4 separate regions of the Homo sapiens genome follow, and regions 1, 2 and 3 are each linked to region 4. The links come from fine-mapping of genetic effects on gene expression. A gene starts in region 4. Each other region holds a variant in brackets. All regions are shown on one strand. Distances are from middle to middle. Region 1 overlaps PELP1 (proline, glutamate and leucine rich protein 1). Region 2 overlaps PELP1 (proline, glutamate and leucine rich protein 1). Region 3 holds the start of TM4SF5 (transmembrane 4 L six family member 5). Region 4 holds the start of CXCL16 (C-X-C motif chemokine ligand 16).

Region 1 (5,000 bases), 43 kb after region 4:
TCTCTTACATAATCATACTCTATCATCATGATCAGAGAATTAATATTGGTACAATAAATTATTTAACCTACAGATCTTTTTTAAGTTTTGCCATCAGTTCTCCTAAAGGCATCCATTATAACAACAACAACAACAACAACATTTCTAGTCCAGGATTTAATGCAGGATCACATGTTGCATTTAGTTGTTTTTTTTGTTGTTGTTTGTTTTGCCTTGTTTTTTTTTTTTTGAGACAATCTCAGTCTGTTGCCTAGGCTGGAGTGCCGTGGCATGATCTTGGCTCACTGGAACCTCCGCCCCCTGGGTTTAAGCGATTCTCCTGCCTCAGCCTCCCAAGTAGCTGGGATTACAAGCGCCTGCTACCATGCCTGGCTAATTTTTTTTCTTTTTTTTTTTTTAGTAGCGATGGGGTTTCGCCATGTTGGCCAGGCTGGTCTCGAACTCCTGACCTCAGATCATCCACCCGCGTTGTCCTCCCGAAGTGCTGGCGTGAGCCACCGCGCCCAGCTTGCTTTTAGTTATAATGTCTCTTTAGTATTCTTTAATCTGAAATAGTTCTTCAGCCTTTGTCTTATGATCTTGATATTTTTAAAGAGTACAGAATAGTTATTTCGTAGGATGCCCCTCAGGTTAGGATCTAATCATGAGGAAACAGCAGACAAATTAAACTGGAGATTTGTGCGTTTTCAGCAAGAATACTGCAGAAGTCGTCCAGGTGCAGTGGCTCATGCCTGTTATCCCAGCATGAGATTCAGAGGCTTAGTGGGAGGCCGAAGTGGGAGGATCACTGAGTGCAGGAGTTCAAGACTAGCTTGGGCAACATGGCAAGACCCTATCTCTACAAAAAAAAAAAAAAAAAACCTTGCAGAAATGATGTGTCATTCTTGGTGCATCACATCAGGAGCACGTATTCTAGGTTAAGCAGGTCTCTGCCAGATTTCTTCACTGTTATAAAGGTATGATTTTTTTTTTTTCCATTTGTAGTTAAGTGTCTTGGGGGGAGATAATGTGAATGTCTTAGGTCTTGTCAACCTTTCACCCACTCATTTTAACATCTATTAAAGGTTCTTCCCTGAATGAATTATTACTATGATGGTTGTTCCGTTGAACTCATTACATTCAGGCTTTTAGCCTAAATGCTGCCGAAACAACCCTTTGCTGGGTGAAATGGTAACTCTTGAAGATCACTGGTGTCCATCAAGACATTAAGTTCAAAGGTCAATTTGGGTCATCATATTTGACTTATCGCTACCATTTGATACAGTTAATTATACTTTCCTATTTAAAAAACTGTCTTCACTTGACTTCTGGGATATCTCTCCCCTGTCTTTTTGTTTTTGTTTGTTTGTTTCATTGAGACAGGGTCTCGCTGTGTTGCCCAGGCTGGAGTGCAGTGGCGCGATCATAGCTTACTGCATCCTTGATCTTCCAGGCTGAGGCAGTCCGCCCTGCTCAGCCTTCTGGGTAGCTGGGACCACAGGTGTGTGCCCCCACACCCAGCTAATCTGTTTGATTTTTAGTAGAAACAAGGTCTCGCTATGTTGCTGAGGCTGGTCTTGAACTCTTGAGCTCAAGCAGTCTTCCCACTTTAGCCTCCTAAAGTACTGGGATTATAGGCGTTAGTCACCCTCCCAGCCCCTCTCCTCTCCTCTCGATTCTCCTGTTATCACACTGGTTACTCCTTTCCAGTAAAGACTGATCCCTCCTCACCTCTGTGACCTCTGAAGGTTTGAGTGCCTACAACCCAGGCCTTGCACTGTTTCTCTTCTCTTTACTCTTATTCCCTTGGTGAACTGATCCAGTCTCAAGGCCCACACCTCTTGAGTTTACATCTCCAGCCAGAAGTTCTCTTCACACTTGTCTAGCCGGTGCCTATTTGGCATCTCCGTTTTCATGTTAAATACACATCACAGATTGAACAGATCTGAAACTGAGCTCCCTATTGTCACCCCAAAACCTGCTCCTCCTGCATTAGTTCCCTTCTCGGTGAATGGCAGCTTCATCTTTCTAGTTGTTCAGCAAAAAACCTTGGCATTATCTTGGACCCTTCTTTTTATTTTCCACCCATATCCAGTTTGACGGCACATCCCGTTGGCTCTACCTTCACAGTACTTCCTGATTTTGACTGCTTTGTATCGCCACAGTTACCACATTCTTCAAGCTGCATCATCATTTGTCTGGAATATTACAGTAACCTTCTACCTCATCTGTTTGCTTCTGCCTTCTCAACAAGACAACACAAATGCTGTTGATTAAAAACAAAGCAAAACAAAAAGCAAACCAGAAGTCAGATATTGTCACTCCTGTGCGCAATTTCTCTCTCCCCCTCGTGGCTTTTATCTTACTCAGGGTGAAAGTCGGTAATCACCTATATGTCTCTGCACAGTCTGGTCCCACTCCCTTAACCTTCATCATTGGTTACTCCTCTCCACCTTGCTCACTTTTCTCCATCAACAATTTGTCTCCTTGTTGTTCTTTGGAAATAACGAAGTATGCTCTCATCTCATAGTCTTCGCTCTTTTTATTTTTCTTTTTTGAGACAGGATGTTGCTTTGCTGTTCAGGCTGGAGTGTAGTGGTGGCGATCATGGCTCACTGCAGTCTTGACCTCCCGGGGTCAAGCAGCCCTCCCACCTTAGCCTCCCAAGTAGCTGTGACCACAGGTGCCCTCCACCATGTTCGGCTAATTTTTAAAAATTCTTTGTGGAGAATGGGGGTCTCCCTCGGTTGCACAGGCTGATCTTGACCTCCTGGGCTCAAGCCATCCTCCTGCCTTGGCCTCCCAGTGTTGGGATTACAGTCATGAGCCCCTTGCCCAGCCTGTTTTTTTTTTTTTTCTTTTCCTGGAACACTCTTTTTTTT[A/TA]TGGTTATCAGTATGCCTTTTTATAAAAACAGCTTTACTGCGGGGGTTCATGGTGGTTCACTCCTGTAATCCCAGCACTTTCGGAGGCCAAGGTGGGCGGATCACCTGAGGTCAGGAGTTGGAGACCAGCCTGACCAATATGGTGAAACCACACCACCACGTCTGGCTAATTTTTGTATTTTTAGTAGATTTTTAGATGTTTAGTTTCGCCACGTTGGCAAGGCTGTTCTCAAACTCCTAACCTCAAATGATCTGCCCACCTTGGCCTCCCCAAGTGCTGGGATTACAGGCGTGAATCACTGCCCCCTGCCAGATTTTTTTTTTTTTTTTTTTTTTTTTTAAGAGAGAGGGTCTCACTCTTTTGCCCAGGCTGGAGTATAGTAGTGTGTTCATAGCTCACTGCAGCCTTGAACGCCTGGATTCAAGCGATCCTTCTGCCTCAGCCTCCCGAGTAGCTGGGACTGCAGGTGCATGCCATTGCACCTGGCTAATTTTTAAAAATTTTTGTAGAGATGGTGTCTCTCTGTGTTGCCCAGGCTGGTATGGAACTCCTGGCCTCAAGTGATTCGCCTGCCTTGGTTTCCCAGAATTTTGGGATTATAGGCCACCGTGCCTGGCCAAAACAGCTTTATTGAGAAATAATTCACAAACCATACAATTTAGCCATTTTATTTATTTATTTTTTCCAGACGGAGTCTCACTCTGTTGCCGAGGCTGGAGTGCAGTGGCGTGATCTCGGCTCACTGCGACCTCTGCCTCCCGGGTTCAAGCGATTCTCCTGCCTCAGCCTCCCTAGTAGTTGGGATTACGGGCGCCCGCCACCATGTCCGGCTAATTTTTGTATTTTTCAGTAGAGACGGGTTTTCATCATGTTGGCCAGGCTGGTCTCAAACTCCTGACCTCGTGATCCACCCGCTTCGGCTGCCCAAAGTGCTGGAATTACAGGCATGAGCCACGGTGCCTGGCCTTTTATTTTTTTCGAAATGGAGTCTCACATTGTCACCCAGGCTGGAGTACAGTGGTGCAATCTTGGCAAACTGCAATTTCTGCATCCTGGGTTCAAGCGATTCTCCCGGGTTCAAGCGATTCTCCCGGGTTCAAGCGATTCTCTCAGGTTCAAGCGATTCTCCTTCCTTAGCCTCCCGAGTAGCTGGGATTACAGGCGCCCACCACCACGCCTGGCTAATTTTTGTATTTTTAGTAGAGCCGGGGTTTCACCATGTTGGCCAGGCTGGTCTTGAACTCCTGACCTCATGATCCACCTGCCTCGGCCCCCCAAAGTGCTGGCATTACAGGCGTAAGCCACCGCGCCCGGCCCATTTTATTTTTATTTTATTTTATTTTTTTTGAGGTGGAGTCTCATTCTGTCACCCAGGCTGGAGTGCAGTGTCACGATCTTGGCTCATTGCGACCTCCGCCTCCCGTTCTCAAGCGGTTCTCCTGCCTCAGCCTTTGGAGTAGCTGGGATTACAGGCGCCTGCCACCACGCCTGGCTGATTTTTTTTTTTTTGTATTTTTGGTAGAGATGGCGTTTCACCATGTTGGCCAGGCTGGTCTCAAACCCCTGACCTCAGGTGGTCTGCCCACCTTGGCCTCCCAAAGTACTGGGATTATAGGCATGAGCCACTGCGCCCGGCCACAGTTCACTCACTTAGAGTATACAATTCCGTGGATTTAGTATATTTGCAGAGTTGTGCGGTCATTGCTGTGCTCAGTTTTGGAACATTTTCATCACTCCATAAAGAAATTCTGTACCCACTTACAGTCATTCCCATTGCCCACCAAGCCCTCCCTGGCTGCCTCCAGCTTTAGGCAAACAGTAATCTACTTTTTTTCTTTAGAGATTTGCCTATTCTGGCCATTTGATAGAAATGAATTGTATAATATGTAGCCTTTGGGTTTGGCTTCTTTCACTTAGCAGTCAGTTTTCAAGGTTCATCCATGTGTCAAGACTTTATTACTCTTTTCTGTTTTGCTGTGTTGGGTCTTGTGTTGCCTAGGCTGGATTCAAACTCTCAGGATTAGTCAAGTGATTCTTATGCCTCAGCCTCCCAAGTAGCTGGGACTACAGGCGGGTGCCATTGTGCCCGGCTAAAACTTCATTCCTATTTATGGCCTTTTATGCAATAGTCCCCTCTT
Region 2 (5,000 bases), 62 kb after region 4:
TAATTGTAAAACCAGGGCAGGTAGCAGCTCTAGTCAATTGTTAGTGGCTGTGTAGCTCGCTGGCCTGGGAAGGACTGTGAGTCAGAGTTCCATCGGCCTGAGCGCTGTGATCAGGGAGTGATGCCTGCAGTGTCGTTAGTAACTGGTTACTCGCAGTATCTGAAAAGTGCCTGAGCAGATGCTAGTTCTGAGTGAGCGAGGGGTTGTGTCCTTGCTGGTTCCTTCTTTTCATGTGAATGCCTCTAATCACAGCTAATAGAATCTTTGGGTAGGCAGGGCAGGACATTTTGTCAAGAAGGTATTTGGAGTGACTCATCGATTTTATTAAAGATTAGCAGAGGTTATTTACTGAGGTTTTACTAAGTTTAGTAAAAACTGGTTATCTTGTCAAATGTTCTGTAAGTTAACCTCTCAAATGACACAGGCCAGCAGTTTGTCCCTGAACAAAGGTTTGGTTTTACTGCAAAAGTGTATTTTGATTCAGCTCTGTTAGGTATTATCTTTATCTACCTGCATCCCCCATGAAAGTGGAGGGGAAATTGAGTGTTACTTAACAGGATAGAAGTGTGAATAGTAAGAGTTAAGGAGACTAGAATGCTAAGTGTTCTTCTGCTGTTGCTTTTTTATTTTCAGTGTGAGTAGTCAGGAGAATTTATCTGTAATTCTCAACCTTTTGTCAGACAGTTGAACTTAAGGCCTGCATTTTGAGTACCCTTTCCAAACTAACAAATGTTCCTGTGTCCTTCCAGGGAGTGTCTTACCTTTATTTCCCTAAGAATCAAGTGCCATCTGCCAGGAGTTTGAGATCAGCCTGGCCAACATGGTGAAACCCTACCTCTACCAAAAATACAAAAAAATTAGCTGGGTGTGGTGGTGTGTGCCTGTGGTTCCAGCTACTTAGAACATTGAGGCAGGAGATCCCCTGAAGCTGGGAGGCAGAGGGTGCAGTGAGCTGAGATCGTGGCACTGCACTCTAGCCTGGGTAACAGAGTGAGACCCTGTCTCAAAAAAAAAAAAGGTCATCTGGAGAACTTCCCTCTGTTGAGGGTGTTGAGGGTTTTGGCTTTGTCGGTTGCCAGCACTTCAGATAAGAATCTGTCATGCAGAGGCTCCAGGGGCAATTTGCACTTGGAAAATCTCGCAGACTAGTACTTAGGAAAACTGATAACTGCCGTTTTGAAGTGTCTGTGTTTTCTGTTACATTCCCCGGATACTCTCAGGGTAATTGTAGACTCCAAGCTCAGGATTACTACTCCCAAGTAATGTGAATCAAGCATTCTGAGTCCATGAGGTCAATTCCTGCAGAGACTTGAACTCACTTCCTCGTCCTTGCCACATTGATGAGCAGTTCCTCGGAATGGGTGGGAAGACTGACCTACTCTTGAGAGAGCCCCAGGACATGCTGTGTGTGTGCGCGTTTTGAGTGAACTGTTCCAAGCGAGTCATTGCTTTGGTTTGCTTTGTGGGTCAGCCAGGGTAACCTGTGGTTAGAGCCGTGTCGCTTCACCGTACACTGCTTTATTGCAGTCACATAAGCAGACTTCTGTTGGCTTCAGTCCAGCTTTTTGAGCCGTTTTTGGAGATAGGGTCTCGCTCTGTGACCCAGGAGTGCAGTGTTAAGATTGTAGCTCACTGTAACCTTGAACTCCTGGGCTCAAGTGATCCTCCCACGTCAGTCTCCCAAGTAGCTAGGACTACAGGTGTGCACCACTAGGATGTCTCGGGGAAAGCGTGAGCCTGCTCTTTCCCCTTCTCTGTATGTTGCCAGTGTTGGCTCCAGATTCTTGTTTTTCCATATGCTTGTCTTGTTATCCTTACTAATTCTTTTTTTTTTCTGAGACAGAGTCTTGCTCTGTCACCCAGGCTAGAGTGCAGTGGCGTGATCTCGGCTCACTGCAACCTCCGCCTCCTGGGTTCAAGCAATTCTCCTGCCTCAGCCTCCCAAGTAGCTGGGATTACAGGTGCCCACCACTGTGCCCAGCTAATTTTTGTACTTTTAGTAGAGATGGGGTTTCACCATGTTGGCCAGGCTGGTCTTGAACTCCTGACCTCGTGATCTGCTCACCTCAGCCTCCCAAAGTGCTGGGATTACAGGTATGAGCCACCGTGCCTGGCCTTTTTTTTTTTCTTTTTGAGACAGGGTCTCACTCTCATCACCCAGGCTAGAGTACACTGACTGGCATGATCTCGGTTCTGGGCTTGGGTGGTCCTCCCACCTCAGCCTCCCAAGTAGCTGGGACTACAGGCATGCGCCACCACACCCGGCTAAGTTTTTGTATTTTTAGTAGAGATAGGGTTTCTCCATGTTGCCCAGACTGGTCTCAAACTCCTTGGCTCAAGTGATCCGCCTGCCTTGACCTCCCAAAGTGCCTGGATTACAGGCGTGAGCTACTGCACCCAGCCTGTGCTTTTTTATTGACATGTTAAGTAATAAGATCTAGAAGCAGGTCTTACAACGACTATAATTGCAAATTAGTGATGCATGTGAATGATATTTCAGGATGTGTTACAA[T/G]TATAATGTGACATGAAAATGATTCTATTAGTGACAGTCACAGGTACTGCTGATACTACTGTGGCTATTTGTCTGCATTTATAAGTGAAGGAAACACTACATTTTACAAATAGGCTAGTGGGAGTAATTTTTTTCCCCATCCATGATCACAGGCCCCCTATGATTGTATATCCAACTAAATTGTGGTTCTCAGGTTAAACACTCCTGCCCTAGCACCTTCACACAGCAGGCAGAGAAAGTGCCGAATGACAGATTGCTACTCCGAGACTTGCTGCCTTACTTCTGCTCTAGCAGCCTTCTTTTTTGACCTTGTCCTGCCCTCATACCTCTGGTTAGTGTCTTAACTTCCAGCTTGGACCCTCGTTTTTGTGTGTGAGCTGGTAGAGAGTTGGAGTGTGGAGACTGTTTTTTAGTACTATGTCCTTTTGGCTTGAGGGAAAAATTTTGCAAAAACTGTCAAGGAGGAAGCCCAGCTGTCTCTGGGACAGGGCCAGGCCCTTTTCGCTCCCAAGCAGGAAGCCGAGGACCAGAGCTGGCGTTGAGGAGTCTTTTACCATGAAAGCATGTCCGTGCCCGGTGTTGATGCCCCATAGAGGGCTTTGCTTCTTGTGTCTACAGGAAAAAGAGACCTGGGCTTAGAGTCTGCTGCTGGGAACGGATGGGATGTACATCTCTGGCTCTCAGAGCTGGCTCACTGGCCTCTTCCTTTTTTCCTCCACATCCAGGGCAAGCTGGCCTCATTTTTTCTGTCTAGGGTGGATGCCTTGAGCCCTCAGCTCCAACAGGTAAAGGGCAGGGAGGGAGAGGGAGAGCCCGGGGATCTGAGCCTGGATTGTCTCTTGCTGCTCCTCCTCTAGCTTTTCTGTCCTGCCTTCATATGCCCATCTGTGTCCTTCGGCCTCATTGTCCCATCTCAGGTTTCCCTCAGAGCTCTCTCTGATCTCCATCTCTTTTGGGTGTCAGTGGGGCTGGGGGTTCTGTGGCTGGGCTGGATTCCCATCTGACCAGGTTTCTGTCCTTTCTCCCGCAGTTGGCCTGTGAGTGTTATTCCCGGCTGCCCTCTTTAGGGGCTGGCTTTTCCCAAGGCCTGAAGCACACCGAGAGCTGGGAGCAGGAGCTACACAGTCTGCTGGCCTCACTGCACACCCTGCTGGGGGCCCTGTACGAGGGAGCAGAGACTGGTAGGGACCAGGGCTGCTAGTTAGTGGAACAATAGTGAGGAAGCGTGGCAGGAAGGAACAGGAGGGGAGCCCAGAGACATGGGGCAGTTGGTTTTTGGGGAAAATGGGTTAGAATACAGGCAGGTCGTCCACCAGAAATGACAGAGGAGGGGATGGAAGAAAGACAGTGTACAGGGTAGTTGTGCTTCTGCCAGCTCCTGTGCAGAATGAAGGCCCTGGGGTGGAGATGCTGCTGTCCTCAGAAGATGGTGATGCCCATGTCCTTCTCCAGCTTCGGCAGAGGTTTTCGGGACTGGCCCGCTGCCTAGGGCTCATGCTCAGGTGTGTGTGGGTATTGGAGGGAGCGGAGGCGTGGAGCAGGAGGGATTGATGAGGGAGTGTCGCCTTCATCAGGAGAAAGGAGATGAAGGTGGGTGTGGGAGTTATGCCAGGGAGCCTGCTCTGAAGGTCTCCCTGCTCTGATTCTCTTTAGCTCTGAGTTTGGAGCTCCCGTGTCCGTCCCTGTGCAGGAAATCCTGGATTTCATCTGCCGGACCCTCAGCGTCAGTAGCAAGAATATTGTAAGTGGGATTTGTCATCTCTTCAGAGCCCTTGCTCAGGATACCAGGCAACCAGGAAAGTACTGGGGACCTGAGTCTCCCCAAACAGTGTCATCCTGGAGTCGTCCCAGAGAGCTTCCTACTTTTGTCCAAATAACATCACTTCCTATGTGTCGTGACACAGGAGCACAGTGTCAGAGTGTAGCAAATGCTTCCTTGGGGGAGGGTGAATTTGGGGATCAGCTGAGTCATTGCTGAGAGGCCCAGCCATCCTTCTTACCTTCCATCCAGGGTCTATTTTAGAGGATAGGGGTTTGATTTTGTTGGGAGAGCTGAGATCAGGGGTTGGGTTTCTTACCTATGTGTACATATGTAAATGGTCATTCCCTGTTTCTGTCTCTCTCTGGCTCTCACTTTCTTCCTCCACTCTTTATCTCTGCCCCTTTTTTCTCCAGAGCTTGCATGGAGATGGTCCCCTGCGGCTGCTGCTGCTGCCCTCTATCCACCTTGAGGCCTTGGACCTGCTGTCTGCACTCATCCTCGCGTGAGTGGGATTGGGCTGGCTGTGGTGAAGGGATAGGGCGTGCCAGAAACGAGGGTCACCATTCCTTCTCTGCCCCAGGTGTGGAAGCCGGCTCTTGCGCTTTGGGATCCTGATCGGCCGCCTGCTTCCCCAGGTCCTCAATTCCTGGAGCATCGGTAGAGATTCCCTCTCTCCAGGCCAGGAGAGGCCTTACAGGTGACCATCCAGGAAGGCAGGAAGGGAAT
Region 3 (5,988 bases), 29 kb before region 4:
CCCGGGCTCCCCTGCCAGCCTTCTCACCATTAGGCCCCCGCCAATGAAGCCGCCCATGAGCCAGACTTGCAAGCTGAGATGGTTGGTGTTGGTCCAGGAGGTCTCCCCATTAGGTACCAGCAGGAGGGCGTTGGCCACAATGCAGACGAGGCAGAGGGTAATGAGGGAGAGCCCCACACAGCGGGCACATTTTCCCGTACACATGGTGAGGTGTCAGGAAGGACAGGCGGTGAGTGAAAGTAAGCCAGTGGTTCCCAGGTCCAGAGGAAAACAAGCCTGGAGCACGGAGCAAAGTTCAGACAGAGGCGTGGCAGAAACTGGCAGGATCAGAATGATAAGGGAGAGAGGCACAGGATGTGGGCCCTGAGGAGGCAGAGGCGGAGGAGCTGCAGCCCTGAGGTGAAGGGAGGATGTGGTGCTGGACAAGGTGGGGGCTATGGACACATTACCCTGGGTTAGTGCCTTCCTGTTTTTTCTGCACAGCTCCACAGCCCCTCTGTTGGTTCCATACCTGCTTTGCAACTTAGCCAAGCCCCTTCATGTCTCTTAAGTCTCAGTTGCCACTTGTGTCTGGGCACGGTGGCTCACACCTGTAATCCCAGCACTTTGGGAGGCCGAGGAGGGTGGATCACCTGAGGTCAGGAGTTTGAGACCAGCCTGGCCAACGTGGTGAAACCCCGTCACTACTAAAAATGCAAAAGTTATCTGTGCATGGTGGCGGGCACCTGTAATCCCAGCTATTCGAGAGGCTGAAGCAGGAGGATCACTTGAACCTGGAAGGTGGAGGTTGCAGTGAGCTGAGATTGTGCCATTGCACTCCAGCCTGGGTGACAAGAGTGAAACTCTGTCTCGAAAAATAAATAAATAAGTAAATAAAGTGACAAGAATGAAACTCTGTCTCAAAAAGTAAATAAATAAATAAATAAATAAATAGATAAATAAATAAGTGATGCCACTTGCCTTGTGGGCTACTTGTGAGGATTAAATGGGACAACCTGAGAAGTATTTTGTAAACTAGGAAGCACAGAGCAGATGTGTGGTGGCCTCTTCGTTTCTGCCAGCCTCTCAGGCAGCATTCTTCCCAGGGAGAAATTAAAGAGGTGATTGTGGGCTCTTATTGTCCTTGCATTTCGTCTTCCTGGTATTTGATTATTGATGTCTCCTCCTCTTGAGGCCACTGCCTGTCTCTCAGGGTGGGCTCGGGACCTAGGCCTCATTGATGAGAGCGTTCTATCCTGCTAGCCTCGGTGTTTGATTTAGCAACAGCCATGCGATCTGAGCCAACTCTGTGAGAATCAGCTTCTGCCATTTTTCCATTCTGAGGTCAAAGAAGTTCTGTTTTTGTTGGGGTGCTGCAGTTTCCTTGATAACTTCTTTTTTTTTTGAGACGGAGTCTCACTCTGCCGCCCAGGCTGGAGAGCAGTGGCGTGATCTTGGCTCACTGCAACCTCCGCCTCCTGGGTTCAAGCGATTCTCCTGCCTCAGCCTCCCAAGTAGCTGGGATTACAGGCGCCCACCACCACACCCAGCTAATTTTTGTATTTTTAGTAGAGACGGGGTTTCACCATGTTGGCCAGGCTGGTCTCAAACTCCTCACCTCAAATGATCCACCTGCCTCAGCCTCCCAAAGTGCTGGGATTACAAGCATGAGCCAAGCCACCCAGTCGACTTCTTTTTTTTTTAATTAAAAAAATGTTTTTGAGACCAGGGTCTCCCTTTGTTGCCCAGGCTGGTGTGGAGTGGATCATGGCTCCCTGCAGCCCTGACCACCTGGGCTCAAGTGATCCTCCCACCTCAGCCTCCCGAGTAGCTAGGACTATAGGTGTGTGCCACCACACCTGGCTAATGGTTTTTTGTTGTTTTTTTTTTGAGATGGAGTCTTGCTCTGTCACCCAGGCTGGAGTTTAGTGGTGTGATCTCGGCTCACTGCAACCTCTGCCTCCTGGGTCTCAGAAGCAAACAGGAGAGTGAAGGCCCCCACAGAATGAGCCCTAGCTCAAGTAGGATGTGGGAGTGCCATGAAGAGATGAGGGTAGCAGGAAGGGCTGCAGGGCTTCAGAGGGTATGCAATGAGGCTGTCACCTGGAAAGTGTCACCAGCCAGTGGCCCCTGATGCAGCCCCTCCTTGCGGCCCACTCAGACCACTACAGAAATGTGGAAAATGGAGAAAAGCCAGAATCTCTGCTATTTATAAGACAGAGGAACTGGATTGAGAAAAATACATGGAGAATTTACCTCTTGAATCAGAGGATGCCTGAAAAAGAAAATACTTTGAACCTCCCCAACTATTTGTCTCTGACTCATAGGTAATTATGATGACTGATACATTTGGTTTTGCTTCTGTTGGCATGTTTAATGCTTTAAACAACATTTCCATATTGCTTCTGATGTTTTCTGT[T/C]CCTCTTCTTTTTTGTTTTTTGAGACAGAGTTTTGCTCTTGTTGCCCAGGCTGGAGTGCAGTGGTGCGATCATGGCTCACTGCAACCTCCACCTCCCAAGTTCAAGCAATTCTCCTGCCTCAGCCTCCCGAGTAGCTGGGATTATAGGCATGCGACACCACGCCCAGCTAATTTTGTATTTTTAGTAGAGACGGGGTTTCTCCATGTTGGCCAGGCTAGTCTCGAACTCCCGACCTCAGATGATCCCCGCCTCGGCCTCCGAAAACGCTGGGATTACAGGCATGAACCACTGCGCCCAGCCTCTGTCCCTTTTCTTTAAAGATTTTACATTATCCTTTTTTTTTTTTTTTTGAGACAGGGTCTCTGTCACTCAGACTAGAGTGCCATGGTAAGATAATCATGGCTCGCTGCAGCTATGACCTCCTAGCTCAAGCTGTCTTCCCACTTCAGCTTCCTTAGTAGCCAGGATTACAGGCCCACACCACCACACTCAACTAATTTAAAAAATTTCTTTTGGCCGGGCGCAGTAGCTCACGCCTGTAATCCCAGCACTTTGGGAGGACAAGGTGGGCAGATCATGAGGTCAGGAGATCGAGACCATCCTGGCTACCGTGGTGAAACCCTGTCTCTACTAAAAATACAAAAAAAATTAGCTGGGTGTGGTGGCAGGCACCTGTAATCCCAGCTAGTCGGGAGGCTGAGGCAGGAGAATTGCTTGAACCCGGGAGATGGAGGTTGCAGTGAGCCGAGATTGCACCACTGGACTCCAGCCTGGGTGACAGAGGAAGACTCCATCTAGAAAAAAAAAAAAAAGATACAAGGAAAAGGGTCACATTGGATCCCACCCTAGATCACCTGACCCCCAGCCAACTCCTATGTGTGTATCAGTGAAATAAATGCTTATATTTATTTGACACTAAGACTTCGTCGAGGGGGATGGTTTGTTGCCCAGTAACAAGTTCCTAACACAGACCCCCTTATCTAGGCCAGGGCTGGTTGATTGAGGAACAAGTAGCTGACCCAAAGGCAGACATGTAGCCAGCGACCTGTGAGGTCTCTCGAGGTGAGAACTCCATCCAACAGAGGTACACTGACTGGATAATGACCAATCCACCGACTGGATCTTCATGATTGGGAAATGTGTCTGTGAGACAAGCTGAGACAGTCATCAGAGAGTGGGGTGGCTTCAAACTGAGAGTTGTATGCAAGAAAGAAGCAATCAAAAGCCAGAGGCAACTGACACCAGAAATAAGCAGAAGTCACAGCAAGAGAAGTGTATGGAGAATAGTTACTCTGAAACAGCGCCAGAGGGAGAAGCACAGGCACTGGAAAACTCTGGTTCCTCAGGAGGTGGCCGATGAGAGGTTGTCACCAGCACTAATGTTGAACTACCAGAGCAACTGTCATATCCCGAATAGTGGCCCTTCCAACCGTGGACCTGAAGAGGGGATTCAGCCATTGATCTGATGGACAGAGAGCAGGGCCAAGAGCTGGCCACCTATTTGTCTACAAGTTGCTCAAGCTGATTCTGAGAGATGGTGCCTCTTTTTTATTTTTTTTTAAACAGAGTTTCACTCTTATTGCCCAGGCTGCAGTGCAGTGGCGTGATCTCGGCTCACCGCCACCTCCGCCTCCCGGGTTCAGGAGACTCAAGTAGTTGGGATTACAGGTGCCCGCCACCACGCTTGGCTCATTTTTGTATTTTTTGTGGAGATGAAGACAGGGTTTCTCCATGTTGGCCAGGCTGCTCTCGAACTCCTGATCTCAGGTGATCCACCCACCTCGGTCTCCCAAAATGCTGGGATTACAGGTGTGAGCCACTGCGGCCAGCCAAATGGTGTCTGTTTTGAGGATGAATAAAGAGAAAAAAAATAGTTGTGTGGGTGGGGTGGTCCACAGGCATTCATTACATTATTTTTATACAATTCTGGATGAATGAAATAATGTTAATAATGTTAACAAAACATTATAGGGATTCTGAAAAATTTTCTCAAAACCAGGGAAGGGCAAATCAACCTGAAGACTGAAAGAAACAGAATCCTCTGGAGGAACATTTACTATAGGATTTGGAAGAGATTTCCAGGAAGATTTTTGATGACATCACTAGAATTCTCCTGGAACTAGGAACAGAATAACTTAAGAAAGAAAAGGCTGGCCGGGCGCGGTGGCTCACGCCTGTAATCCCAGCACTTTGGGAGGCCAAGCTCGGTGAATCACCTGAGGTCAGGAGTTTGAGACCAGCCTGGCCAACATGGCGAAACCCCATCTTCACAAAAAATACAAAAATTAGACAAGTGTGATGGCAGGCACCTGTAATCCCAGCTACTCAGGAGGCTGAGGCAGGAGAATCGCTTGAACCCGGGAGGTGGGGGTTGCAGTGAGCCGAGATCGCACCATTGCACCCCAGTATGGGCAACAGAGCAAGACTCCATCTCAAAAAAAAAAAAAAAAAAAAGGTCCAGGCTCAGTGGGTCACGCTTGTAATCCCAGCACTTTGGGAGGCCGAGGCGGGCAGATCACCTGAGGTCAGGAATTCGAGACCAGCCTGACCAACATGGGGAAACCCCGTCTCTACTAAAAATACAAAAATTAGCTGGGCATGGTGGCGGGTGCCTGTAATCCCCGCTACTCAGGAGGTTTAGGCAGGAGAATCGCTTGAACCCGGGAGGTGGAGATTGCAGTGAGCCAAGATCACGCCATTGCGCTTCAGCCTGGGTGACAGAGTGAGACTCTGGCTCAAAAAAAAAAAAAAAAAAATTCAGGAAACTGGCTTCTCCTAAGAACAAGAATAGAACTGGTGGAAGTGACACCACAGTTAAAACATCTGCACTAGGAGAAGACGTCACTGAGCGCAGATAGATCCACTCAGGTCAGTGGGTTGAAAGTTATACTGCACGGCAGGTAAAATATTAAAAGTCAGCTGACCATAGATTCATCCTGACAAAATATCTGAATTAAAGGATACATCTAGGCAGAATTTAAAAAGGCTACTTAGAAAGAAACAATAGTTGGTGTGGCCAGAGTCTTCTCTGAAATACTGAATGTCAGAGGACAAAGGAGTAAGGCAGCTGTGTCCACCAAAAAAGGTAGAACTATCATATACATGTCTAAGTTGCATTTTGTATGTTAAGGGCAACACAATTGCATTTCTGAGAATGTTTGGATTTCAAAATAACACTTTGGCTCCTTTTTTTTAGAGAAATTGTGTTGACTCACCAAGAGATGAAGTAAAATAAAAACCCCAAAATGGGGAAGTCTTGACGTAAGTCTAAATAAATTTCATATATCTGGTTACAAAACTGGATGCACATTTTGGAAAAAAATATTTTTCTTCTCTTTTGTTTTGAGTCAGAGTCTTGCTCTGTCATGCAGGCTGGAGTGCAGTGGCGTCATCTTGACTCTGCAACCTCAGCCTTCTGAGTTCAAGCGATTCTCCTGCCTTAGCCCCCCAAGTAGCTGGGATTACAAGCATGGGCCACCAGGCCTGGCTAATTTTTATATTTTTAGTAGAGACTAAGTTTCACCATGTTGGAGGGTGGTCTTGAACTCCTGACCTCAAGTGATCCACCTGTCTTGGCCTCCCAAAGTGC
Region 4 (6,234 bases):
CTCCCGCGAGGACCCTGGTTCTAAGTCTGGTTCCAGTCAGGCCGGGAACTACCATTTCTGAGTGCCTCCAGCGTACCAGGCACCAAGCCAAGATAATCCTTGTAACAATTCCATGGGCCTTCTCCGTATCCCTCATGAGGACACGGAAGCTTCAAGAAGTAAAGTGGTTTGTTTAAGGTCACACTGCAGTTAGTGGTGGAGCTGGGAAGCAAGTAAGTGTTTGAATCCCTGTCCCCCAATCCCTGCACGCTCTCAGGGACCCAGACACTCAGGCCTCGGCTTCAGAGACCCTGTCTCCAGCCCCAAACACCCAGCCCCTGCCCTTGTTCCAGGGATCTAGGCTCTAGCCCCAGACACTCAGCCTTCAACTGCAGGACCCTGTTCCCAGACATCTAATTCCCAGTCTCAAAGACCTGGTCCCAGTTTCCCCCAACCATTCTGACCTCCTTATGGTACCTGCGGTGTAGGTAAAAGGCAGGGTTGCCAGTTCTCCTGCCCGCTCCATGAAGGCTGCAAGCCTTGGGCACCAAAATCGGTGACTCACATCATCTGGGCACCGCTGCCAGTCAGCCCGGAGACAAGCCTCTCCACAATACAAGACAGCACTACACTGGGGGCTGGGGACACAGCGGGTGGTGGGCACCTAGTGTTAACCTCTGTAGGTCCTGTCTGCTGTTCAACTGCCCAGCAGCTGCCCATATGTCACTCGGTCTGTTTGTCTTACACCCTCTAACCGCCTGTAACAGTCTGTATTGTTTCCTCTGCATCTTCTCATGTCCCTGCCTCTCCTTCTGTCTGCTAGGCGCCCCCCACCACCCTGCCTTCCTTCTATTTGCCTATTGGGGTCTTCCTCTCCCCCAGCTTTGGGGCTGCTCACCAAGGTGTCAGCTTCGCTTCAAAGCTGTGCCTGTGACACACATGGCAGGTTCGAGCACGAAGGGAAGCAAAGGTGAAGCCTGGCCGGGGACCCCATGTCCGCATTGGGGTTTTGGCTAACTTCACACCTAGCCTTGGGACCAAGCTCTCCAGCTCTCTAAATGCAGTTGGGGGGGAGATGGCATCAGGCTGGAGGAGGTGCTTGGGAATCCAGGGCCCGAGTCCTCCCCAGCCTCAGATACCAGATTTCTATACCGATGCAGCCGGGCATCTCCCACAGTAAGCTGTCGGGGCTTTCGGGGATCCCCAGAGCCCATGGGACAGGCCATGCTGTGACAGAGGAGAGCATAGGCCCAAGGAGCCAGGTCCTTGGTCCCTGAGCCCCAGCTTGCGGTTCCCTGGGCTCCATCCACTAGCAGATCAATGCCCAAGATGGTGCCATGCTCATCCGTCACAAGTAAGAGACAGGAAACGTGCAGGGGGGCAGCCTCTGGGGAAAGAGGGAAAAGTTGAGGTGGTAGGGGGCAGCGAGAGACAAATGTGGTCAGGGTCAGGAGTACCAAACTCAAATACCTACGGGGCTAGGCAAGTAACCTCACTGAGTAAAGGGCTCTGGGTAGAGAGGGCACGCTCCTTCTAAAGGGGACAGCTGCTACAGAGGACCAGAATGCGCTGCCATGCAGAAATGTAGGCCCACTGTCAGAGCTTGAGATTTTTCTTGGGAATGTGTAAATCCAGACTTCTGGATACTTTTTTTCTTGCAATGTTTAAACATTAAATTAAAAAAAAAAACCCCACTGTGGGTCAATAAAAACACCTTTTCAGGCCAGATTGGCCTGAAGGCCAGCACTCAGAACTAGTGGCAGGGGAGGGCTTCCGAAGGGAGGATGGCTGGGCAAGGGGTAGGGCAGGGCCAGCCCTGGGTTCTTACCACTCCTCTGTCCCTTCCTCTTCTGGGGTCTTGTTTCGTTCTCCACCCTGTCCTCTCGGCAGCCATCCTTGCCACCTCCTGCCTCCCGGGCAGCCTCCTCTGACTCTCCTGGAGGGTTTGTTTCCTGGGGGGACTCCCTGCTGGTAGGGGCTAGCTCCCGGTCCTCCTCTGGTTCCACCTTCTCTGTGCTGCCTGCACCCCCGTCCTCTCTCTTCTCTTCTTCTTCATCTTCCTCCTCTTCCTCCTCCCCTTCCTCCCCATCCTCTAGGCTGACAAAGCTGATGTAGGGGCTCAGGTCTCGCAGGTGGAGTGGAGGGTTGTCTCCCAGGAGCCAGGCAGTCCCCAGGCCTGGTCCAGGACCTGGTTCTGCCCCTTGCCCCAGGCTGATGCCCACACTATGGTTGGGCAGGACATGGAGCACCCAAAGGGCAGGGTCCTGGGGTAGCCTTCTGATCTGGGCCTCCAGCTGCCGGCAGCGGCCCTCAAGGCTAGTCCCTACAGCTCCACGCTCTGCCACAAACTTTCGGAACCAGCCGAAGAGAAGGGCAGTGAAATCAAGGAACTCATCCCGGTATCCAGACACAAACTCCATGTCTTCAGCGGCACAGGGCCCCGGCCCAGACTGAGCAAAAGAAGGGATATATGGTGAGGGACAGGAGAGCAATGATGGAGTTTGGGGCTGGGTCACAAATTGAGGGAGAGGGTAGGTTTGAGAGTCACTTAGGGTTGGATCCGTGGATATGCTAGGAGCGGAGAAGAGGATTTTTCAGGGCTGAGGATGGGAGTTTAGGGAGGAAAATGGGGGCTGGACTTGAAAGTGGGTGACCAGGGTTGGAGAAGACTACTCAGGGATGAGATGGTATTTGGGGCTTAAAATTGGAGAGTTCACACCCTCAAAAGCAGAGTTTAAATTAAGGCTAGAGAGGAGAGAGGGCTAATCCTATCGGGAACGGTTTGGTGGGGAGGGAAGCATTTTGGATGCGTCTGTGGGGTATGGGAGTGGGAGCGAGGGGGTTCCCTGGGCTCGGATCTGCGTGGCGGGCAGCCCCGGTAGACCTAGCCCCTCCCGGCCGCCCCACTCCTCCGGTACCTGCAGCCGCCACCACTTTTCGAAGGTAAATACCTCGCGGTGGAGGGTGCGCGGGTGCGGTTGTGACGTCAGGGCTGCCCGAGCCCTCGCCGGCTCAGCGGGCGGCCACGCCCCCCGGGCTCGGTGCGTCCGCGGGTGGCTGCCCCGCAGGTGCGCGCGGCCGGGGCTGGCGGCGACTCTCTCCACCGGGCCGCCCGGGAGGCTCATGCAGCGCGGCTGGGTCCCGCGGCGCCCGGATCGGGGAAGTGAAAGTGCCTCGGAGGAGGAGGGCCGGTCCGGCAGTGCAGCCGCCTCACAGGTCGGCGGACGGGCCAGGCGGGCGGCCTCCTGAACCGAACCGAATCGGCTCCTCGGGCCGTCGTCCTCCCGCCCCTCCTCGCCCGCCGCCGGAGTTTTCTTTCGGTTTCTTCCAAGATTCCTGGCCTTCCCTCGACGGAGCCGGGCCCAGTGCGGGGGCGCAGGGCGCGGGAGCTCCACCTCCTCGGCTTTCCCTGCGTCCAGAGGCTGGCATGGCGCGGGCCGAGTACTGAGCGCACGGTCGGGGCACAGCAGGGCCGGGGGGTGCAGCTGGCTCGCGCCTCCTCTCCGGCCGCCGTCTCCTCCGGTCCCCGGCGAAAGCCATTGAGACACCAGCTGGACGTCACGCGCCGGAGCATGTCTGGGAGTCAGAGCGAGGTGGCTCCATCCCCGCAGAGTCCGCGGAGCCCCGAGATGGGACGGGACTTGCGGCCCGGGTCCCGCGTGCTCCTGCTCCTGCTTCTGCTCCTGCTGGTGTACCTGACTCAGCCAGGTTAGCCGGGGGCGGGGCAGGGGACCCAGATTCCCCTGTCACGGGAAGGGGGTGAGTTGGGGAGGGGACACGAGGCCCACGGAGTTGAGTGGATGAAGGCAGCGGGGACAAGAGGAAAGCCAGCCAGCCGCCTGGGGTTGGGGACAGAGGCCCGGGGACGCCTGGCTCCGGGCGGGATTATGGATGTTGTCGGGGGCGTGATGATGTGTGGGTTGAGCCTGGCGCTCTGACCCTGGGTCCACCGAGAGGCTGTCATGGGGCTGTGGATTGGATGCCAGGGAACAGCGGAGTGGGGACCCTGGGCCTGGGAATGGGTGCCGACCACCTCCGTCCCGCGCAGGCAATGGCAACGAGGGCAGCGTCACTGGAAGTTGTTATTGTGGTAAAAGAATTTCTTCCGACTCCCCGCCATCGGTTCAGTTCATGAATCGTCTCCGGAAACACCTGAGAGCTTACCATCGGTGTCTATACTACACGAGGTAATTTTACCTGCCTCTGCGAGGGCAGCGCCTGGGCGGCCCCTCCTTGCAGGTGCCTCCAGGACCCTCTCTGGTCCAGCCTGAACTCCTTCCCGGCTCACCGAGCCCCATCTCCGGGTTCCGTTTGCTCTCATTCCCCGAAACTTCATGACTCCGTCTCACCTACTGGGGAGTTTCCCAGTCCCAGGAGAAAGGGCTCTTTCTTGGTGGCAACTTCACGCCTCTGGAATGAGGAAGGAGCCGGGGAAGGAAAGAAGGCGCCGCAGCTAAGCCCAGGTCTCTCCTCCGCAGGTTCCAGCTCCTTTCCTGGAGCGTGTGTGGGGGCAACAAGGACCCATGGGTTCAGGAATTGATGAGCTGTCTTGATCTCAAAGGTGAGACTTTTCCACTGCTCTTCAGGCTCTGCCTCCAGGGCTTAGCAGCTTCCACCTGACAGTTTTCTTTACCTGAGCCTTTTCCCCTGGGGCCGCACATTCCTAGAACCTTCTTCTGATCCTGTCCAAAGTACTTAGACTCGAGTCCCTGTTTGCCAAACGGGGTGATCATTCACCATCACCTTCATGAGTTTTGCCAATTCATTCTACCACGTGTGCTATTGTCTACTTATTAATATTTTTCTTGAAATCAAAGTACTATTTTATTTTATTTTTTTGAGATGGAGTCTCACTCTGTCACCCAGGCTGGAGTGCAGTGGCACGATCTTGGCTCACTGCAACCTCTGCCTCCCAGGTTCAAGAGATTCTCCTGCCTCAGCCTCCTGAGTAGCTGGGATTACAGGCGCGCACCACCAAGCCTGGCTAATTTTTGTATTTTTAGTAGAGACAGGGTTTCACCATGTTGGCCAGGCTGGTCTCGAACTCCTGGCCTTGTGATCCACCCGCCTCGGCCTCCAAAAGTGCTAGGATTACAGGCGTGAGCCACCACACCTGGCCTATTTTTCTTTTCCAATATTTTATTATGAAAATTTACACATATACAAAAGTTGAAAGAATGGCACACTGAATATCCAGTGCCTCCACCTAGATTCTACAATTTTATTTATATATGTATATTTTACATATTTACATAAACATATATTTTACACTATCAATTTTACAGCAATTACACGATATTTGCTTTATTAAGTATCCATCTATTCATTCTTCTATCCATCATCCATCACCTTATTTCTTGATGCATTTCTTTTTTTTTTTTTTTTTTTTTTTTAATGGAGTCTTGCTCTGTCGCCCAGGCTGGAGTGCAATGGTGCCCTCAGCTCACTGCAGCCTCCGCCTCCCAGGTTCAAGCAATTCTCCTGCCACAGCCTTCCGAGTAGCTGGGATTGCAGGTGCCCGCCACCATGCCCAGCTAATTTTTGTATTTTTTTAGTAGAGATGGGGTTTCACCGTGTTGGTCAGGCTGGTCTCAAACTCCTGACCTCAGGTGATCCACCTGCCTCAGCCTCCCAAAGTGCTGGGATTACAGGTGTGAACCGCAGTGCCCGGCCTCTTGATGCATTTCAAGGCAGATTGTGGACATCATTGCACTTCATCCCAAGACATTTCAGCATGTATATTAAGTAGAGTTCAATATTTTAATGCTTTTTTTTCTTTTGAGTTCAAATTTACATACAATGAAATGAATTACTTTTAAGTGTGCACAAACTAGTTTTGAAAACTTAAGTAGAGGCCAGGACGGTGGCTCACTCCTGTAATCCTAGCTCTTTGGGAGGTTGAGGCCGGTGGATCACCTGAGGTCAGGAGTTTGAGACCAGCCTGACCAACATGGTAAAACCCCATCTCTACTAAAAATACAAAATTAGCCAGGCATGGTGGCATGTGCCTGTAATTCCAGCTACTCAGGAGGTTGAGGCAGGAGAATCACTTGAACCTGGAGGCGGAGGTTGCAGTGAGCCGAGATCAGGCCATTGCACTCCAGCCTGGGCAACAAAAAAAAAGAAAGAAAACTTAAATAGTAAATTATCCTAAGCAATAATATCTGTGAAGTCACAAGTTTGATGCATTGGTTATATTTTTCTCTTAAAATAAATATACAACCATTAAAATACAAAAGGTTCTTCCATGTCCTA

The links.
Region 1: its variant is fine-mapped to the expression of CXCL16 in whole blood (INTERVAL, PIP 0.98).
Region 2: its variant is fine-mapped to the expression of CXCL16 in whole blood (INTERVAL, PIP above 0.99).
Region 3: its variant is fine-mapped to the expression of CXCL16 in macrophages (Nedelec 2016, PIP 0.95).

The regions. Positions count from the first base shown.
Region 1 is chr17:4,693,869-4,698,868 of GRCh38, reverse strand. The region is part of intron 1 of PELP1 (proline, glutamate and leucine rich protein 1); the gene reads left to right. Among named protein-coding and RNA genes, the nearest start is that of PELP1, 7.8 kb to the left of the region's middle. RefSeq lists enhancers at 347-516, 1,425-1,594, 2,224-2,293, 3,487-3,656. The variant A/TA (reference allele first, on the strand shown) is at 2,862.
Region 2 is chr17:4,675,050-4,680,049 of GRCh38, reverse strand. It overlaps PELP1 (proline, glutamate and leucine rich protein 1), which reads left to right. Exons shown (of 17, transcript NM_014389.3): 6 at 3,238-3,297; 7 at 3,543-3,693; 8 at 3,888-4,014; 9 at 4,166-4,253; 10 at 4,688-4,776; 11 at 4,855-4,971. Among named protein-coding and RNA genes, the nearest start is that of PELP1, 27 kb to the left of the region's middle. The variant T/G (reference allele first, on the strand shown) is at 2,513.
Region 3 is chr17:4,766,139-4,772,126 of GRCh38, reverse strand. TM4SF5 (transmembrane 4 L six family member 5) reads right to left here and starts at 241. Exons shown (of 5, transcript NM_003963.3): 1 at 28-241. The coding sequence starts at 204. The variant T/C (reference allele first, on the strand shown) is at 2,399.
Region 4 is chr17:4,736,714-4,742,947 of GRCh38, reverse strand. It overlaps CXCL16 (C-X-C motif chemokine ligand 16), which reads left to right and starts at 3,020. Exons shown (of 6, transcript NM_001386809.1): 1 at 3,020-3,687; 2 at 4,028-4,166; 3 at 4,458-4,540. The coding sequence starts at 3,609. It overlaps ZMYND15 (zinc finger MYND-type containing 15), which reads right to left and starts at 3,115. Exons shown (of 14, transcript NM_001136046.3): 1 at 2,898-3,115; 2 at 1,808-2,429; 3 at 1,132-1,366; 4 at 878-1,033; 5 at 457-617. The coding sequence starts at 2,399. RefSeq lists a silencer at 2,929-3,148 and enhancers at 2,697-3,601, 3,602-4,507.